Regions from separate parts of the Homo sapiens genome. Here all the other regions are linked to region 3. Evidence: fine-mapped expression QTL. A gene starts in region 3. Each other region holds a variant in brackets. All regions are shown on one strand. Distances are from middle to middle.

The links.
Region 1: its variant is fine-mapped to the expression of TCAF2 in whole blood (TOPMed, PIP above 0.99).
Region 2: its variant is fine-mapped to the expression of TCAF2 in whole blood (INTERVAL, PIP 0.93).
Region 4: its variant is fine-mapped to the expression of TCAF2 in whole blood (INTERVAL, PIP 0.95).
Region 5: its variant is fine-mapped to the expression of TCAF2 in whole blood (INTERVAL, PIP 0.96).

The regions. Positions count from the first base shown.
Region 1 is chr7:143,730,277-143,734,397 of GRCh38, forward strand. It overlaps TCAF2 (TRPM8 channel associated factor 2), which reads left to right. Exons shown (of 8, transcript NM_001363538.2): 8 at 1-134. Among named protein-coding and RNA genes, the nearest start is that of CTAGE6, 25 kb to the right of the region's middle. The variant G/T (reference allele first, on the strand shown) is at 1,819.
Region 2 is chr7:143,777,960-143,782,080 of GRCh38, forward strand. No RefSeq gene overlaps it. Among named protein-coding and RNA genes, the nearest start is that of CTAGE6, 22 kb to the left of the region's middle. The variant T/C (reference allele first, on the strand shown) is at 2,395.
Region 3 is chr7:143,618,524-143,622,644 of GRCh38, forward strand. It overlaps TCAF2 (TRPM8 channel associated factor 2), which reads left to right and starts at 2,451. Exons shown (of 8, transcript NM_001363538.2): 1 at 2,451-2,497. It overlaps LOC101928466 (a long non-coding RNA gene), which reads right to left and starts at 186. Exons shown (of 4, transcript XR_007060573.1): 1 at 1-186. RefSeq lists a silencer at 2,356-2,515.
Region 4 is chr7:143,768,889-143,773,009 of GRCh38, forward strand. No RefSeq gene overlaps it. Among named protein-coding and RNA genes, the nearest start is that of CTAGE6, 13 kb to the left of the region's middle. The variant GA/G (reference allele first, on the strand shown) is at 1,648.
Region 5 is chr7:143,497,660-143,501,780 of GRCh38, forward strand. The region is part of intron 2 of EPHA1-AS1 (EPHA1 antisense RNA 1); the gene reads left to right. Among named protein-coding and RNA genes, the nearest start is that of TAS2R41, 22 kb to the left of the region's middle. The variant C/T (reference allele first, on the strand shown) is at 2,256.

The sequences.
Region 1 (4,121 bases), 110 kb after region 3:
CTGACTTTTTAATGATCGCCATTCTAACTGGCATGAGATGGTACCCCATTGTGGTTTTGATTTACATTTCCCTAATGACCAGTAATGATGAGCTTTTTTTCATGTTTATTGGCCACATAAATGTCTTCTTTTGAGAAGTGTCTGTTCATATCCTTTGCCCACTTTTTGATGTGTTTTTGTTGTTGTTGTAAATTTGTTTAAGTCCCTTGCAGATTCTGGATATCAGAACTTGTCAGATGGGTAGCTTGCAAAAATTTTCTCCCATTCTGTAGGTTGCAGAACTGGTGTTCTCAACAGTGATGTTAGGGTAAAATGATGGATACTGCTGGGTTTAATAGATTGCCCTAGAAACAGAGACAATGTCTGGCTTCTTACACACACACACACTTCCTGGTAGAAGTTGGAGCCTGTAGCTCCTTGTCTCTCATACAGAGAGACTGTGACTTTGCCTCTTGTTTTTAAGTTGATAGTTAATTGTAACTGCAGTATTCTCAGATTCTTTTGTCTATTCACAGAAACTAATTTGCTGCCAGTGATAGGGATGATCCATGATTTCTGAGACATTTACTTCCATAATTTCACAGTTCTAAGTCTAGAAAAATTATTAGAAGAAAATTATTGGATGGTCTTGGAACCAACCCAAAGAAAAAAACATGTCCTGTGAACAGTAGGATAGATACTGAATGTAGCTTGTCTCACTTTGGAACTAGTGCTTATAATTTCCCTTGGACTGTATATTTTTGTCCAATCACTACTGTACAGGACATGGGTTTGGTTTGCTTTTCCCTCCCATGAGCCACTCAATTGCTTTGCTAAAAGCCCCATCAGTTTTCCTTTGGTTTCCTTTGGTACACCAACATCAACACAGAGTCCACTTGGTTTGGAAGGGGTTGGCCCACACTGTTGGCAGGAGTGGGCACAGAATCCATGCTCATCTAATTGTCCATACCTTCCAACAAGGATTGGTTCAAGTGATGGGAAGGTGGCCCTTGCCAGGGTGATGAAGTGCATACGACAGACTTTTACTGGCTGTACTGGGAAGCATACATTTTCTTTGGTACTGGAGAATTGGTAATGACAGTGCCAAATGTTGTTTGTTATTGAAGCTAAGTGAAGGGGCTCTTGAAGGATCCTTATTCAACTTTTGCCTATGTTTAGAAATTTTGTAGTAAAATTGTAATGGTGTAAGTCTACTATTTATACCTATAGAAGTAAAAGACTTTTGCCAGGTGCAGTGGTTCACGCCTGTAATCCCAACACTTTGGCAGGCCGAGGCGGGTGGATCACGAGGTCAGGAGTTCGAGACCAGCCTGGCCAATATGGTGAAACCACATCTCTACTAAAAAAAATGCAGAATTAGCTGGGTGCAGTGGCTCATGCCTGTAGTCCCAGCTACTCAGGAGGCTGAGGCAGGAGAATCGCTGGAGGTTGCAGTGAGCTGAGATCGCGCCACTGCACTGTAGCCTGGACAATAGAGTGAGACTCCGTCCAAAAAAAAGAAAAAAGAAAAGAAAAAAAGAGAAGTAGAAGACTTGTTTTTTTTAAGTTTTGAAACAATTTCTTAGGGAGAGTAGGATTGAAAGAGTAGAGAAACAGGGGAGATAAAGACAGAGTAGGGTTTGGGCAGATTCCTGTTGTTTTTCTTATAAGCTCTTTGTTAGTAATTTAATATTGTATTTCTACCACATATGTTTTCTACCCTATGCAAGCATGACACCTTTTAAACAAGATAGATATAAACTGTATTAAAATTTACAACACAGCTTGCATGCCAACATAGTCTTCCATGATTTGGTCTCTGCGAGTGTTTCCAGATTT[G/T]CCTCCCACCTCTATCCCTTGCTTTCTTTATTCCAGCTGTGATGCACACATTTCAGCGTGAATGCGGCCCTCCTTCTCATTTCTACAGATTGTTCTGTGCTCCTGGGTCATTCCTTTCTTCCACCTGTCCTTCCCTCCACTTCACAATAGAATAGAGAAGTTTCTGATGTTTGGGCTTCCTTTTGGGTAGAACAACAACAAAAGTCAACTAGAAAAATGTCCTTTTTTAGAGTTATATTTTCAGAGTGAGGACTCATTTATCATTTATATTTATCATAAGAAATTAAAACATTTTCACTTTTTGTTTTTTCCTGTTAAATCTTTAAGTATCTTTAACCAGGACTTAATTAAACTTGAATGGTCTGCAATCTTTTTCAAATGTGAATAATTTCAATGTATATTTTCTCCATTTGCTAAATTTGGTAAAATAGTGTTTAGTGTTGTATTTTTAATAAAACAAAACCTGCCCTGTGGAGAAGGGACACACTTTGTGGACGTGCCATTTGGGTCACACACAAAGGTGGGCCACTGGGGTGCCACCACTGAGCCAGCCAGGATAGCAAGAGCGACATTCTCTAATTCACACAGAGGCATTTTATGAGCTAGTGGTGGCCTTGGAGAAGGGACGGCACTTCTCTATATTACTTTGGATTGGGGTATCAGTATTTTTAAGGTTTTCTTTTTTTCTTCAGCTCTTAACCCAGAGGTCATTTCCTCGAGCCGTGTCTCTAAGCCTCATGTTCCGATAAAACCTGTAACTTCCTTTATATATCAGTCATCACATTTGTAATTATTTGTTTAAAATCTCTCTTTCCCACTACATGGAAGCTTCATAGGGGCAGGGACTAGACCTACCCTATTCACAGCTGTATCTACAGCCCCAAGGGCAGGGCCTGTCACATATCAGTTTTGGTGTAGGGGTCTATTGTATTAACACATTACTAACAAGAGTGTATGATAATGGGAGAAGACTAGATGAGGATTTCCAACTATTGTATATGTTTGCTGTCTTTAGGCGGATCACCTGAGGTCTGGCGTTCCACACCAGCCTGGCCAACATGACAAAACCCTGTCTCTACTGAAAATACAAAAATTAACTGGGTGTGGTGGCACATGCCTGTAATTCCAGCTACTTGGGAATCTGAGGCAGGAGAATCACTTGAATCCGGGAGGCGGAGGTTGCCCTGAGCTGAGATCGTGCCACTGCACTCCAACCTGGGCAAAAGAGTGAGACTCTGTCTCAAAAAAAAAAAAAAGAAAAGAAAAAGAAAGAAGAAGAAGAAGAAAAGACCTCTGTTATTTATCCCTATTCAAGAAAATGGTTTCACTATTCCAGAAAGAAGCTTTAGTGTGATTAGAACCATTCTCCTATTTTTAGCTTCTGAAAACAGGCTGCACTGTGAGAGTGAATTTTCCATTAATTCTTATTTCTCCTTTTCCTTGGGACTTGGTCAGTGAATAGTATAAGCTATTTTCAGGAGTTTCTGTATTTTGGTGAAAAAAGTATTTATCTGACATTTCCTGGGCCCTATTTCTACTACATTTCGATGTCAATTCCTCTCCTCTGCTAACATTTCCAGCCAAAGTTAACTACAGTGTAGATACTTTCATTTTGAATTAACATTTTTCCTGTTCTGCCATGTTATTAGGTTCTGGAACAGGGATATATCCCACAATAACAGTAATGACAAATTAAGACCCCCCTAAAAAAAATTCAAATTATTTTATATGGCCTCCCAGCTCCAAAACAAGGCAGCTGAGATGCCTATACATGGCACCTTCATACCGGTACATCTATCTGTTAGTCTCCATTTCTGTAGAAGAAAACAAAAAGATGCTATTAGCCTACTTCAAATTGTTGTTCCACTTTTGAATCTAACCTAGTTTCCTATGATAAGTTATTTCTTCAGGCCCCTAGGCTGTCTTCACCAGAAACTTTGAAATAGAAACCAGACCTTTCTGAGTATTGCTCAGGTACATCTCTGATACACTGATTCATCTAAGATCAAAAGTGCCCCCCGCTAATATGGCCTCAGCAGCACGTAGCTAGCACATGAACAGCAGGTCAGCCAAGACGTTAAATGTGGTCAAGGTTTCCAAAGAAGGAGAGCTACTTTTCAGTCAATGCTATCTCCTTATAGGCATGGCATGATTGCGTTTCTCAGGATATTATTTTCATGAACTTGTTCCTGCTGCAAGGTCTTTAGTACCATGCCTGGCTTCCATTTTGAAAAGCCTTCTTGTGCAAGATTGGTGCACTTCCCAGTTCTGGTAGGAGGACAGTTTGGTCCCGTACTCAGCTT
Region 2 (4,121 bases), 160 kb after region 3:
AACTCTCAACAAACTAGGTATAGAGGGAACATACCTCAAAATAATAAAGGCCATATATATGACAAACCCACAGCCAACATCATACTGAATGGCAAAAAGTTGAAAACCTTTTCTCTAAGAACTAGAACAAGACAAGGATGCTCACTTTCACTACTCCTATTCAACATAATGCTAAAAATACTATTTCCCCTAGACAGAGAAATCAGACAAGAGTAAAAAATAAAAGGCATTCAAATTGGAAAAGAGGGAGTCAAATTGTCTCTCTTTGCACATGAAATAATCTTATATTTAGAAAAAAAAGATTCCACCTAAAAATGATAAGCAAATTCAATAAAGTTGAAAAATATAAAATCAACATATAAAAATCAGTAGCATTTCTATAACCAATAATAAAACAGCCAAAAGAGAAATCAAGAAGACAATCCCATTTACAATTGCTACCAAAAAAAAAATACCTAGGAATAAATTTAACCAAGCAGGTAAAAGATCTCTACAAGAAAAACTGTAAAACACTGTTAAAATGAATTAAAGAAGACATAAACAAATAGACATCCCATGCTCATGGATCAGAAGAATCAATATTGTCAAAATGACCAATGAAATATCCAGATTCAATAAAATCCTTATTAAAATACCAATGTCATTTTTTACAGAAATAGAAAACAAAATTCTAAAATTCATATGGAATAAAAAAAGAGCCAGTATAACCAAAACAATCCTGAGCAAAAAGTACAAAGCAGAAGGCATCACACTACTTGACTTCAAAATATAGTACAAGGTTATAGTAACCAAAAAGCATGGTATTGACATAGAAATAGACACAGAAACTAATGGAAGAGAATAGAAAACCCAAAAATAACTCTACATATTTACAGCCAACAGACTTTCAACAAAGTTGCCCAGAACATACACTGAGGAAAGGATACCTTCTTTAATAAATAGTGCTGAAAAAAATGGGATATTCACATGCAGAAGAATGAAACTGGACCCTTATCTTCCACCTTATATAAAAATCAATTCAAAATGGATCAAAAACTTAAAAGTAAGACCTTAAACTATAAAACCACTAGAAGAAAACAAAGGGAAAATACTCCAGGATATTTGTTTAGGCAAAGATTTTATGGCTGAGACCTCAAAAGCAGAGAAAACTAACACAAAAATAGACAAATAGCACTATAGTAAACTAAAAAAGTTTTTGCACAGTGAAAGAAACAATTAACAAAGTGAAGAGACAAACTGTTGAATGGGAGGAAGTAGTTGCAAACTATTCATCCAACCAGGGACTAATATCCAGAATATGCAAGGAATACAAACAACTCAACAATAAAAAAAAACAAATAATTCAATTAAAAAGTGGGCAAATGACATGAATAGACAATTTTCAAAGGAAGACACACAAAAGCCAACAAGCATATTAAAAAATGCTCAACATCTCTAATCATCAGAGAAATGCAAATCAAAACCATGATGAGATATTATCTCATCCTAATGAGAATGGTTATTCCTAAAAAGACAAAAAATAAATAAATAAAAACAGATGCTGGCAAGGATGTATAGAAAAGGGAATACTTAACAATCGCAAAGGTATGGACTCAATCTAAGTGTTCATCAGTGGGTGAATGGATAAAGAAAATGTGGTATATATACACAATGAAATACTATTTGTTCATAAGAAAGAATGAAATCATGTCATCTGCAGCAACATGGATGGAAATAAAGGTCATTATGTCAGGTGAAATAATCCAGGCACAGAAAGACAAATACCACATGTTCTTACTCATATGTAGGAACTAAAAACCTTGATCTCCTGGAGGTAGACAATAGACGGGTAGATATGACACCAGAGTTTGGGAGGGTGTGAGAGTGGGCGGAGGGAGAAAGGAAAAGAGGTTCATGAAGAAGCACAAACTTACAGTTAGATAGAGGAAATAAGTTCTAATTTTCAATAGCAGACTAGGATGACTATAGTTAACAACAACATATTGTATATTTCAAAGTAGCTAGAAGAAAGAACTTGAAATGTTACCAACATGCAGAAATGACAAATACTCAGTATGATGGATACCCCAAATACCCTGACTTGATGTTACATGTTCGATGCACATTAAAAATGCTCACATGTACCCCCATAAATGTGCAAAACACTATGTACCAATAAAAGGAAAAAAGAAATAGTAGAGGGTCTCACAAGCATTGTATACATGATTTGTTAGCAGAATCATGTTCGGCAATGCTTTTCAAACCGCAGGTCACTAACAATCAGTAGTCTGTGAAGGTAGTTTAGCAGGTTGTGATCAGCTTCTTGTTAACAAAAGAGAATTCATCCAGGCTGGAACAAAATAGAATTGAATTGAAAAAAATACTTTCTCACATGTAATATGGCTGAGTGTTGTT[T/C]TGTGAAAGTTCGTTTTAATTATATGTAAATGGGCTTTTTGAGCACATAATGAAATATGATATAAAAAGTATTTGTTATTATAGGTCACAGTGTTTTAAAAAAAAACAATGGCCTACAATATTGATTCTCAGGAATCCACCCAAAATTTCCAGGAAATAAAAATACCAGAAGAAAACAATGAACTGGAAAAACAATGAAAGAGAAGCAAAGAGAGAACCAATGACCAAAGAGTTGTTCCTTTGAAAAAAGTCCATAAATTAATAGTGACTAGCCATATCGGCCAAGATAAAAAGAGAGAAGACACAAATTATCAATTTTAGGAATGAAGGTTAGAAAATTATTTCAGATCCTTCCTAGTCATTTATAAACATAAAAATAAATCATACATGTGTCATACATGACACAGCAGCAATACTCACTGAAGAAGAAATAGGTATCTTGAATAAGCTACTATACATTAAAGAAATTGAATTTGTGGCTTAAAATTCTCAAAGAAAAATCTTCAAGTCCAGCTGGCTGTACTAACACGTTTTTCCTAACATTTCAGAAAAATGTAATATAATTATACACAATTTTTTCCATAAGATAAAACGGGAGGGAATGACACCCAGCTCATTTTATAAACTCAGCATTACCTGATATTAAAAACAAAGACATTATAAGAAAACTACAGACGAAATATCCCTCACAGCATAGATATGAAAATATTCAATCGAATGCTAGCACTTACAATCCAACAATATGTAAAAAAAAGATAATATATCATTACCAAGTGAGGTTTATTTCATCGTGAAAAGATAGTTAAGCATTCAAAAGTTAATTAAATTAGTTCACCACATCAGTAGACAAAAGAAGAAAAACATTGCTCATCTCAAAAGATGCAGAAAATCACTGGACAAAATTTGAAATCCAACCATAACAAAAATTCTCATCAATTAATAATAGAAAGGAACTTCCTCAAACTGAGGGAGAGTATCTACAAAATGGGCTGCTAACATCAGAGTTAATGCTAAAAGACCAAATGTTTTGCCCCTAAGATCAGGAATAAGGACGAGAAGTCCATTCTTACCACTCTTTTTAGACACACTGAAAATTCTAAGTGCAATAAGAGAAGAAATTCAAAAAAAAAAAAAAGACCTACAGATTAGAAGAAGTAAAAATGTTTCTCTTTGCAGATGACATGATTGTATGTTTAGAAAATTGTAAGAATCTACAAGAAAGGTATTAGAACTAATTAGTAAATTTAGCAAGGTCAATAGTTAGAAGGCCAATGTATATTTAATACACAAAATCACATTTCTGTCTACATTCTATATACTACCAGTAGAAACTGAAAATTTTCAAGCAGTGCTATTATAATAATAAGAAAAATAAGAAACACTTTGGTATAAATTTAACAAAATATGTTTATACAAGTGTACAATCTGCATATTGAAAACTCCAAAACGCCAGTGAAAGAAATCAAAGGCCTAAACAAATACAAGATGTTCGTTATTCAAGATTTGCAAGTCTCAACATTGTTATATTAATTTATTAACGTTAATCATAAATTAACCTTCCATAGATTCCATGCAATCTTACAAAAAATCCCAGCAATATTCTTTTTGGAGAAATTGACAAGTTAATTCTAAAATTTTTATGGAAAAAAATCAAAGGAATTACAAGAGCTGATATAATTTTGAAAAGAACAAAGCCCAAGGACTTAATTATTTCATTTCAAGACACA
Region 3 (4,121 bases):
ACTTTCACTGAATGGCGTCTGTTTTCTCCCAAGTAAAAGGAAAGATCTGGGGCCTGCACCTTTGCATAAGCAGTAACCATTTCGAAGCTTATCCAACCCACCTTATTTTCGTTGTTGTTGTTGTTGTTCCGTTTTCTTTTATTTTAGGTTTCTAGCTGCCTGAACTCACGGTTTTTAGTTTCTGTCTCTAGTGAAAGGGGAAAAGAGGGATGAGGAAGGGGTTTTACTCGCCTAACCAAAAACAGAAACTAAGAACCCATGACTGTATTCTCTCTCGGACACCCTTTAGTCAGAACGTAAATGCTGGTTACCATCTTTAATCTTTTTTTTCTTCTTTTTTTTTTTTTTTTTTTTTTTTAGGAACCGTTATGCCGTTCCTATGTTGTTAGGTTCCATTCCTCAGGCAGCTCCTGCTCCCAAATGGCAGGTACTTTCTGCTCTCTGACCCTGGAAAAATCACCTTTGTTTAAAGCCCCTTTCTTCTATTAGAGCAACACCAAAATACTCTCAGGAGTTAATTTAGAACAATAGTAGTACTTTACCATGAGGAGTGAGGTTGATGTAGGTGGAGACTGGTTAAAACCTAAGAGTACAAACACACAAAAGATACCGAGCCAGCTTTTTGTTGTTGTTGTTGAGACGGAGTCTCGCTCTGTCGCCCAGGCTGGAGGGCAGTGGCATGATCTCTGCTCACTGCAACATCCGCCTCCCGGGTTCAAGCAATTCTCCTGCCTCAGCCTCCCGAGTAGCTGGGATTACAGGCCTGTGCCACCACGCCCGGCTAATTTTTGTATTTTTAGGAGAGACGGGGTTTCTCCATGTTGGCCAGGCTGGTCTTGAACTCCTGACCTCAGGTGATCCACCCACCTCGGCCTCCCAAAGTGCTGGGATTACAGGAGTGAGCCCCCGCACCCGGGCCTGAATCAGCTTTTAACGTGGAACTTTACTGACCCACTTTCTTTGATGTCCATCTCCCACTTCAGCTCCCAAAGGTCAGTTGTTCCCTGATATGAAGCCTAAGAACTCAACGTACTTCACCGCACGTTGGATTTCTAGCCGGAATTATTCCAAATTCTGGCAAGTCTTATCCACAATTTCTTTTCTGTGTAAGTTTCTCCTTGCTCTTTATTTCTGAAACCTGAATGTATTTGGTCCTCTGCCAATCAGATTTCCACTAGTCCTCCGAAGAGTCAGTTATTAACTCACTAATTCGACAGATATTTTTGGACGTTCACTATATCCTTATTTATTTAGCATATATTTAGTTATTTATTAAGAAACTAAAGCCTATTCTATGTCAGAAATGAAAATAGGCAATGAGGACTCAATGGTGGGCAAAATGCAGACAGACTACTTTTTTCCCCTCATTCTAGCACAGTCATCACTTTCCTAGGTAAGACGTTCCTAAACTCCAGACTACACCAAATCCTCCTCCTGACCACACCCTTCCACCTTGATTTTCACCTTCTGACCTCTCTTGCGTAGAAATTCGAGCACCAGCCACTCTATAGCTTTAGCTTAATTTCTCCAGCCATGCACGGACGAATCTGTGTTAGTGATGCCACAGGCACGTTTCCCTCCCAGCAAGAATATAACTTGCTGGGCAGCATTTCTGTGGATACTTTGAGAGAAAAATGCCCTAGTTGAGCACCCCGCACCATGGCCATAAGCATCCACCGGGCTCGAAGTGCATGGCCCGCAGCTGACCACTAGGGGGCAGCCCTCCACGCAGAGGCTCGAGCGACGGAGGCGACGCGGCGGCTACCGGCTCTGCTGAGCCCACCCCAAGATCGGAGGGAAGGGAGCCTGATTCCACGCGGGGCCTCCCCCGTGGCATACGTTGTTGTTAGGGAACTATTCGCCCCAAATATGGTTTATTGGAGACTTAGGGTTTGCTTTTCTTATCAAGTGCGACAGCAAACTGGCTGGGTCCCCTCTCGCATCCAAGAACCCGCAGAGACCCTGAGGGAGCCGGTTTGGGGCCCCATGCAGGCCAAAGCATCCCTCCGGGAAGGCGGGGTCGCTCACCTGGTAGGCGCCCCGAGAGCCCGCAGCACGGCCCGAGGTGGGGTCCACCGATGGAACGGGAGACCACGGGCGTGGCTCAGGGAGCGGTAGCCGCGCCCCGGGCCCGCCTCAGGGTCGGCTCCGCCTCACCCCAGCCTGTGCCCCGCCTCCGGGACAGCCCAGTTTCCGAGACCTCCTAGCCTCCAAGACAGCCCCGCCGCCAGAACAGCCTCTCCTCCAGGACCGGCCAGCCTACGAGAGAGCCCCGCCTACGGTACAACCCGCCTCCGGGACCGCAGGACTCCACCTCCGAGACAGCTCAGTCCCCAGGACAGTCCCGCCTCCGAGACGGCCCCGCCTCCAGGACGGCCCCTACCTCCGAGACCGCCCCGCCTCCGGGACCGCCCCGCCCCGCCTCGCCTCCGACCCGTCCCCCGCGCGCCACTGCAGAGCCTGTCCGTCAGTCCCTAGGTATCCGCACTGCTCAGGGGTGAGTTTTCCAATCCCAGCGGGTCCTGGGGTGGGGGCGGTAGCTGAGCACCTAGGGCACTGGGGGTCGCCGCAAAGTGCTGGAGGCCCCAGACCATACCCGGCGTCAGGGGGTGTCCCTCCCTTCTTAGGTCTAGGTCTTTGGTTTCATTTCGTTTTGTTAGTCTGGTGCTATTTGCAGTTTGTCTCAAAACACGTTTCTCCCTCCTATTTGAACTTGTAAATTACGAATTTGACAAAGATGTGCATGGTGTGTGCGTGCACGAGGGCACATTTCGTTGCGGAATGCTGGGTCAGCTTTCCGGGACATATTACTCATCTGAGGTTTTTTGTCTGTTTTTGTTTATCCTGTCAAACTGGTACTGCCCCAGAAGTGAAAGACGTCGCTTGTCTTCTGGGAGGTAGCTAGCACGATCTTGAGCTCAGGCTTCCGGATCTCTCTCGGCTGCTTTTTTCCACTGGTAACTTCTGAGGCTGAGATCAGGTACCCGCATTCTCAATGCTCTGCCGAGTATTGGCTCTCTTTTGTGAATTTCTTTCCCGCGAGCAGTATTAAGAAAAAGGTGGCGGATAGGAAGGGAAGAGGGGAAGAGATGGAATTCTACAGGAAATGCAGGGCATGCTCAGAATGCCAACCTTTCCGAGCTTGGAGAGATTTAGTGGAAGAAAGTAGCAGGAAAAACGTCCAGTAATCACTGGCATGCCAGACCCTGGAGAAGCCAGGCTGAGGCGCTCTGCAAGTTTCACCTTAGAGAGAGTGGACGAAATGTAACGGTTCTTGTTAGAGTTCTTGTAGAGGACGATTGTGGATGAGAATACATCCTGGGGACTAAAACCATATTGGTTTAGTCTGGAATGATTGCCAACTAAAGGGACTGATGTTTGAGAGAGATGGTGAGAGATTAACCAAATGAGGTGGTTGACTGCATATAGAAGCAGGAGGGAGAGAGGAAGGAGGCACTTGTGGCTCAAGGGCTTGGTGTGTGTTTTAGTTTAGATTCTGCCCTAAAGCAAAGCCTTATGCAAGGGCTTACCTGCAGGTAATTTTTTGGGGGTAAGTGAGACCAAAAAGCCCAAATGAGGAAGTGGAGAGAATGAGACAAGGAAAAAAGGGAAAGCCAGGAGGAGCATGTGGCTGAGGGTCTTCCACATGGCGCTCCTTTCCTCCGGGTGCCTTCCGAGGACCTCTGATGGGCACCTCGGGAAAGCCACGGGGCACTCTTCTGTGAATCCCCGCTCTACTGGGCGAAGCTCACCCTAGTGTCAACTCACCGCTACTTCAGGGCTGCCTTGTGCACCTGCAGAGGTGAGAAGCCATCAGAGCACAGAGGAAAGTCCCTTACAGTGGGCTCGTCAGAGACGCGCAAAGGGAGGCGGCACAGGCAGCCAGGGGACTACTGCACTACTGCAATCTGCAACGCTGCCCTCGGCAACCCGGGAAACTTAAAAGGACAGCAAAGGGACAGACACTCTCGTTTATTCCGTGCTCACTGTATGTGTACCAACCCCAGACAAGGCATTTTTAGACATATTCTTTGCTTTATTTTATTTTACTTTACTTTATTTTATTTTATTTTATTTTATTTTATTTTTTGAGGCAGAGTCTTGTTCTCTCGCACAGGCTA
Region 4 (4,121 bases), 150 kb after region 3:
AGTTTGAAAAAATTCACCAAGAGGAGGCAGAAACTCATGAAATATTAGTTGTTGAAATCAAGAGTGAGAATCAGTTTTAGATTCTCATGTTTTTGGAACATTTCAAAAGACTTAATATTCTGGTAAAAAAAGAAATTTATATATTCTGGGATAATGATAAATATATCACTTTGCTACAATTCATCTCGGATTTTTGTCTCCTTTCTTACTGTTTTAGCTTTCCGATTTTGCTTTTGTCTTCATGCTGCACCTCATCTTCCTTCTAAGCTTTCAGACTAAACATTCCGTTCCTTTACCTGTAGAAAAAAAAATGTGGTTGTGGATGTGTTCCTTTTATAGTAAGTGCTGAAAAACTATAAACTTTAAGCCAAAAGGACAATACTTCTTTCAAAACCCTTCCTTTAACAAATCACTTTGCAGAGCATTAAAAAGACCATAAAGAGACAGTACGTTTTCCCCAGCCATTGAAGGTATGATGAATGGTACAACCTGAGAGTGAATGGAAGAGCCACTTTATAAAGTTTAAAGAACCAATACTTGGGCTTAGTTATGGACTTCACACTAACCAGAGATACAAGGCATTTTAGCCGAATGACAGTGGACCGAACTAATCCTATAAAGTGACAAGGGGAAACACTGGGACCCTCCACTGTGACATATCTTGGAGTGAAGGCTTGGCAGGAAGTCAGTCTTGCATAAACATAAAAGCCAAACTCTTTTAGAAAACATATTATCAGAGATGATTTATTTTTATATGAGAATAGTTCTTTTAAAAAATATTTTAGATCTTTTTCTTGAATATAAATATTGATTTACTAATATGACCTGTCTTTTTTCATTCTCTAGACAACAATGATTTCTTAAGAAGAGGCAAATGGAACTCAGAATAAGCAATCATAGAATACAAGCATAGAATAATTTCAATAATTTTTGCATTTGAACACAAAAAATGAGCTACTAAAAGCATAGCCCCCTTCAAGTTGTAATTCAAACACATAACATAATTTGACTTCAATAGGCAAAGCAAATGACACTTACTTGGAAATTTCTAAGGTACTTACAGAAAGTCAAGGAGAGGACTTAAAGTGAAGAAAAAATATGTCTGACTAATAGTGAATAAAATTATTATTGATGCAAAAAGCATTGTTGAATGAAATCTTTTCAGCATCTTAAATATATAATGGTCTAAAGCTTGACCACCTCAAGTTCTTTTTAGAAGCAGGCAGAGGAAAAGAGAGAAAGAATGAATATAAGAACATTTACATCCAGAGTATACAACTCCAGAAGATAGAATTTATTCCTGTTTCATCTTTGTGTGCACTTTTCCCCATGGTTAACCAGTGCATTGCACTAGAAGGCTCAGTGTTTGTTGAATAAATAATCCCAGAAATAACTAGAAAATAGTGCAGAACAGTGAAGAGAGAGCTTAAGTAGAGATCAGGAAAGATACAGCATCTTCTTCCTTTCTTTACTATGTTGAGATACTCTCTGAGCATTGTTTTCCTTATTTGAAAAATGAAGAGTCAAAATGCCTTAAGTACCTTTCAGTTCAGAAATTCTTTGCTTTGAGAGTAAATATACTTAAGATTGAGTGCTAGAATTCAGAATTTTGCAGTGCAAGTTAAAAAATAATTCTATCTTTGGGGA[GA/G]AAAAAAATGGGGTTATATTTTATTTATTTTTTATACTCTGTCAGTAGACTAAAGGGGGTCTTTAATTAGTAAAATTGTACATTTCAATATGTTCATGCTTGCACACAGAAAGGTGCTGAGTACCTGCCATGGCTGTACTGCAATGTCTATTGTAAATGTTAGCTCTTTGGGGGGCAAGCATACCCACATTCATATGGCATTTCCTAAGCCTGTTTTCCTTCTCAGCGTTAAACTCACTGATGCAAACTGCCCAGCTGTGTTTTAATTAAACTTCTACTCCCACTTTCCTTTGGGCTTTTCAATCATATACGCTTCTCTTTCCCCTCTTTTCCCCATAGTCTTCTCTCTCTTTTCCCTAAACTCCCGCCACATAGGCCTGTGGTGAGGAGAGCTGACAATAATGAGGCCCCAGGAACTGGTTCAAAGCCTGCTGTAAAACTTTTTAAATTAAACCCTTGAGATTTTAAGAGTTTGTAATTAGAATGCATGGTTTGAAATGAATTAACATAACCCTGCCATCTAGCTGGCATAACCCAGTGCCCATGAGTCTGCTGATCTCTGGGTGCTTAAGCCCTGGCAGAGCAGACTGTTTCTAACCATTGACCATCCTGTCCCAAAAGTGGGCAATGTCTTCTTTGAACCTTTTGGGAAGTGTCCCAAATTCTCCTCCTATTGAACTGTTAGAATGTGCTTAATTTTCCACTGTAAGAATAGGTTGCTTTGATGAGTATCTATTGGGATAAGTTTTTGCCTTTGTGAAATTTCTTCAAAATAGATTCCCAGAAGTAGGATTAGAGTGGGAAGGGTAGAAATATATTAAGGGCTCATCATAGATGCCAAATCCCTTTCTTTTCACTCATCCATACAAACAAATACTTATTGAGCACCTGCTGTGTACCAGGTACTCTTCTAGGTGCTGAAATTTGGTTGTGAACGAGATAGGTGAAGTTTCTGATATCGTGGAATACTACTTTACTGGTTAAGGAAGACAATCAATAAGTGGGCAAAAAATACATAATATAATTATAAATGGTAACAAAAGCTATAAAAACATATAAAATGGAACGATAGAGAATAGGGGTTGGCTTCTGTCCTTTTGCAGTCCATACAATTTATCAGGAAAATTGGTCAGCTTTTCCTTCTAAGTACGTAGAGAACTTAATATCTTCTCTACCTCTGTATTGTTATCTCCCTAATCCAGGTCACCATCATCCTTTGCTTGGACTTTTGCAAGAGTTTCTTAATTGATCTTCCTGCTACCATATTACCCCCCATAGTCTGTTCTCCCCACAGCAGTCAGAATGATTCTTTTAAAGTGTAAGTCAAGTCATATAACTCAGCTGCAGAACACTTCCAATAGCTCCCTTCTCTCTCAGTGTAAAATCTGTCATTTCCATGGCTTGTAGAAGAATCTGCGGCCTGGACACTGCTGCTTCTCTAAACTCATCTCTACCATTCCCCTCCCCAGCTGCAATCCTTTCAAATTTCAAGCATGACACTTCCTCAGTGACTTTGCACTTGCTGTACCCTCTGTTTGGAATATGGTTTCCCCATATATATCTCACTCCTTCAGTTCTTTGCTCAAATATTACCTTTTCATAGAAATAGTCATTAACCATCCCAAATAAAATAGTGTGGCATTCCCATGTCTCTCTTTATCCTACTTTCTTTCTCTTCATGGCACTTATCGTCACTTGACATATTTATTTGTATATTTTATTGACTGTTTTTACCCACTAAAATAGAAACTTCATAGATCAAATACTTTATCTGTGCTGTTCACTGCTATATCCCCAGTATCTAAATTGATACCTGGCACATAGGTAATGGCTCAATATTTGTTAAATTAATGAAGAAATTAATGACTTTGTTTGAACCTGGTGAGAGATTTCTTGGAATATGCTGTGAGTCTAGACCATGTGTCCTATCCAAGTTGTTTTTAATTTTTATCAATGTCATGGATCAAGAAATAGTAGAGGCCCAACAAACTATATGCTGTCTTGGAGTCCAGCAGTGCTGGAGCTGGGGCTCAAGAGAAGTGCAGGCTGTGTCCCCAAGATCTAGGCGTGAGTGACCCTGGGCTATCACACCTGGGGCTAAGGTGCAGTGCTGCTGGGACTGAGGTGCAAGTGGTGCACACATTCCCCATCCATTGGCCTATGCTGTTGCCAATGAAGGCAGAACTACCCTCCCCAGTGGCAGGATAACAGCACAGTTGTTTCTTCCCCCAGTGCAAGCATTCCACCAGTGGCCTGCGGATCACCCAACCCCTTTGTACCTTGGGTGGCTCCTCCACACGCCACTGGAGGCCTGAGGACAAGCTCATCTGACCCAGATTTACCCCCTCTCCATAAAAGAGCACATAGTCTAGGGGCCAGGGGATTTCCCAACTTGGTTCACCACCATCGGAACCTAAACACTCCTCCCAGGGGCCTACTCACCAAAATGAGAATACCACAACTGGCACTTATC
Region 5 (4,121 bases), 120 kb before region 3:
TCTTTCACTGCTGCTTTTCTATCGTCCCTCAACATCTTTGGAGTTTCTAGGTCACCCTGAACAACAGTCTCTTGGTAGGGCTCTAAATGGGGATCAGGAAAGTATTTCCACCTTTGGCCTCTTCTTATCCTATCTCTTCATCCTCAGGGCCTCAGTCCCTTGGAGGGCTGTTTAGAACACATATATTTGAATGTCTGCTTCTTCTACCTTTCTCTTCCTTTATTTATTCCCAAGTCTGTGTCAGAAAGAGAAGGTTTTGCCCTCTCATGAAATGGAAGATTTCCCTTATGTCATATCCTGAGTTCCCTAGTTTATCAAAATCTCAGTGTTCAAATCCAAAGGTTGTGGGTTTTGATGTAGGTGCCTCAGGGCTTCAGAAATTTGGAATTAATAAAGAAAATATAGATTGATCTGTTTTTCTCTAAGTGTTATCCTTGTGCCTGCAATTCTCCATATGGTGTCCATCTTGGACAGAGAATTGGGCATCTCTTCTCTTCATTATTCAGCTCGTCCTGCTGAAACGCAGCCAGGACAGGGCACACCGCAGCACCAAGCAGCTACAAGGTAATCAGATTCTGAGCACTAAACCCAAGGCACATGGAATATTTTCCTTTTCTTTTTCTTATTTTATTTTATTTTATTTTATTTTATTTTATTTTATTTTTTTGAGATAGAGTCTTACTCTGTCAACCAGGCTGGAATGCAGTGATACAATATTGGCTCACTGCAGCCTCCACCTCCTGGGTTCAAGTGATTTTCCTGCCTCAGCCTCCAAGTAGTTGGGACTACAGGCACCCGCCACCATGCCTGGATAATTTGTGTATATTTGGTAGAGATGGGGTTTCATCATGTTGGCCATGCTGGTCTTGAACTCCTGACCTCAGGTGATCGGCCCACCTTGGCCTCCCAAAGTGCTAGGATTACAGGCTTGAGCCACCGCACCTGGCCGATGTGGAATATTTTTCTAAAGCAGCCTATTTGATTCTTTTTGAAAGGCCCTTCTCAGTTTCCCCAGCCTGATACGGGCTCGGCTGTAAAGATGGGACAGAATCTGTGTCATGTCTCAGGAGTGAGGAAAAGAAAATGTTATTCTGTCACATTCAGAACAGTTCTACAAGGTGGACACAGACTGGGCCAGAGGTAGACAACTGGTAAAGAGCCAGCCAAGATGAAAATTGGGATATACCCGATGTCAAATTTCAAATATTGGGCATTTTTCACTAGACCATGCTGCCTCTCACATTCCTTTCTAAAAGAAACTGGTTGCAAACGGCCAGGTGCAGTGGCTCACGCCTGTAATCCCAGCACTTTGGGAGGCCAAGGTAGGCAGATCACGAGGTCAGGAGATGGAGACCATCCTGGCTAACATGGTGAAACCCCGTCTCTATTAAAAATACAAAAAATTAGCTGGGTATGGAGGTACGAACCTGCTGTAGTCCCAGCTACTTGGGAGGCTGAGGCAGGAGAATCACTTGAAGCCGGGAGGTGGAGGTTGCAGCGACCTGAGATCATGCCACTGCACTCCAGCCTGGGAGACAGAGTGAGACTCCATCTCAAAAAAAAAAAAAAAAAAAGTGGTTGCAATGGAAGAAGGCAAAGGTCTCTTTATGCTCTGGCATTGTGGAATTCCACACAGAGGTTTGCAAAAGCAGAAGCAGTGTCTTTCTGCTGTCAAGATCTTTTCCATGACTGAATTAAGCAAAATGACGTGTCTTAATACTCAAAAGGAGCAGAGAAAAGAGTTCTGGCTGGGTGTTTCCTGCTCTTTAGATAGAGTTTGCTTCCTGGCCTTGAGTTAAGGAAGCTGACTCGTTTTTATTTCTAGAGCCTTCTGGCTCCCCTCCAGGCCTAAGCATTTGCCTCAATTTTTCCCTAACAGTTTGGACCTGGTTATAGGCTGAATAATGGCCCTGCACATGTGTCCACCTTCTGTCCTAATCTCCCAAGTCTATGACTGTTATCTTCTATGGCAAAAGGGATTTTTGCAGGGGTGATTAAGTATTTTGAGATGAGGAGATTATCCTGGGTTAGCCAGGTTTGCCCAATATAATCACAAGGGTCTTTAGAGAGAGAGGCAGGAACACCAGCATCAGATCTTTCTGCCTCCGTCTTCTCTTTAGGGCCAAGCCCATATCAAGCTGGGGAAACCGTGAAGGGCCTTTTACAAAGAATCGAACAGGCTGCTTTAGAAAACTACTCCACATGCCTTCTGTTTAATGCTCACAATCTGATTATGTTGTAGCTGCTTGGTGCTG[C/T]GGTGTGCCCTATCCTGGCTGCATTTCTTCATTCCCTCCCCTGCCCACATACATCCACAGCCCCAGTCGGCTGTATCCATGAAGAGCTGAATGGAACAGGATGACTGGCAGCCCACGCCAAAGGCCAAGAGATGTGAAGGTAGAAGCAAGAAGTTAGAATGACCTGAGGAAGAGGTCACAAGCCCAGGAATGCCAGCAGCCACTAAAAGCTGAAAAAAGGCAAGGAAATGAGTTTTCCTCTGAAGCTGCCAGAAGGAACAAGCCCAGCCAATGCCTTGACCCTAGCCCAGTAAAATTGATTTTGAACTTCCGACTTCCAGAACTGTGAGAGAATACATTTACGTTGTTTTAAGCCACAAATATGTGGCAATTTGTTACAGCAGCAATGGGAAACTAACACAGATTCTAATCTCTTTTCTTACTCCCATCCCAGGTTGCCCTGGGGTTAATTCATGATTAAAGATCCTCCAGCTTTGTTCTCTATACTTTCTCTTGTCTTCTTGAGTCTGATCTCCTTCTTGCTCTCCAAGTGCTTCCCCCACTGCACATCAACAAGAACATTTCTGCTTCTTACCTGTCTCTGTCCCCTGCTCTAACCCATGAGGAGTCAGAAGCAGTCTAGTGGGGGCCAGGCAGGGGAGGGAGGTGAGGAAGCTAGGAAGGTTAGAGAAGAGAGAAGAAGCCAACATTCCCCACTTTAAGCTTTTGGGGTTGGGAGTCAGAAGAAGCTTTATCTTAAAACAAGGTTTAGAGGTTTGATTTTACCTTGGGCTGGATATTTTTAAGACTGCAGTGAGAATGTTTTGGGGACTTAAGGCGAATGAAAACGTTTTGATTTTTTGGGAGGAACTAGAACATTCATGCTACTTGTTATGGATTTAGTCCAAGGCACAGAGAAGGACTAGCCCCATAGTGCAGGTTTGAGTGTATGGAGATGAGAAAGAACACAGCACTTTTCTGATTACAGTTTGTGAATTCAGCTTGTTCAGTAAACCAGTTCCCCTTAGTTTCTACAATAGATTTGAGATCTTGTGGTCTGGGACCTGGGAATTCCATCGTGGCTGTGATATTTTCGCAAGATTTTCAAATCTTTTTCAGTATCACATGCACTCTGTGTAGCGGAGGTTGTTTCATCTACTTAGCCCACCAAGACCCCTCTGGAGGCTGCATAGCCTGGTGGCTAAAGGTGTAGGTTCTAGACCCTGAATGTGCAAGTCTGAATCTTTGTTCCTACCTTGTGCCTTTGCAGCAATGGGCAAGTTAAAGTCTCTACTGCCTCAGTTTCTTCTGATGTAAAATGGGGAGGATGGTAATACCTGACTCACGGGCTTTTGTGAAGATCAAATGAGACGATCCATGCAGAGCACTTAGCACAGTGTCCAGTCCATGATAAGCCCTCAGTGAATAGTAGATATTTTTATGTTGAAATGCTTTGAAGAGTTTAGAAGAAAGGTGCCAGTCAAGCCAATGCTAGAAACAGAGATTAATTTTTATTTCCTCACACATTTACTTCTATCCTGCTGTGCCTTGTAAACTGAACATTTTCATATTTTTCTCCTTCGCAAAATACAAACTGTTCCAACAGTTCTCTGCCTCAAACCTGAAGTGTTTTATGCCATCCTTGGTAGGTTGTGAGAGATATTTTGGAAGCACCTTTTTAGAAGCTCTGTTAATTGAAACTATTCCTCAAGCTTTGCAATAAATGCAGAAAGTTTCAGTGCTCCCTCACATCCTGGAAGCTGACTGTAGCCTGTAGAGGGCTACTGGGTTAAGCCCTCTACAAAGGTGACGATAGAGTCCAGTTCAGGAAGCCATCTTCTGGCCAGGTAGGGTGGACATGGGCACACTGGAGCCAGAGGGAGGTCA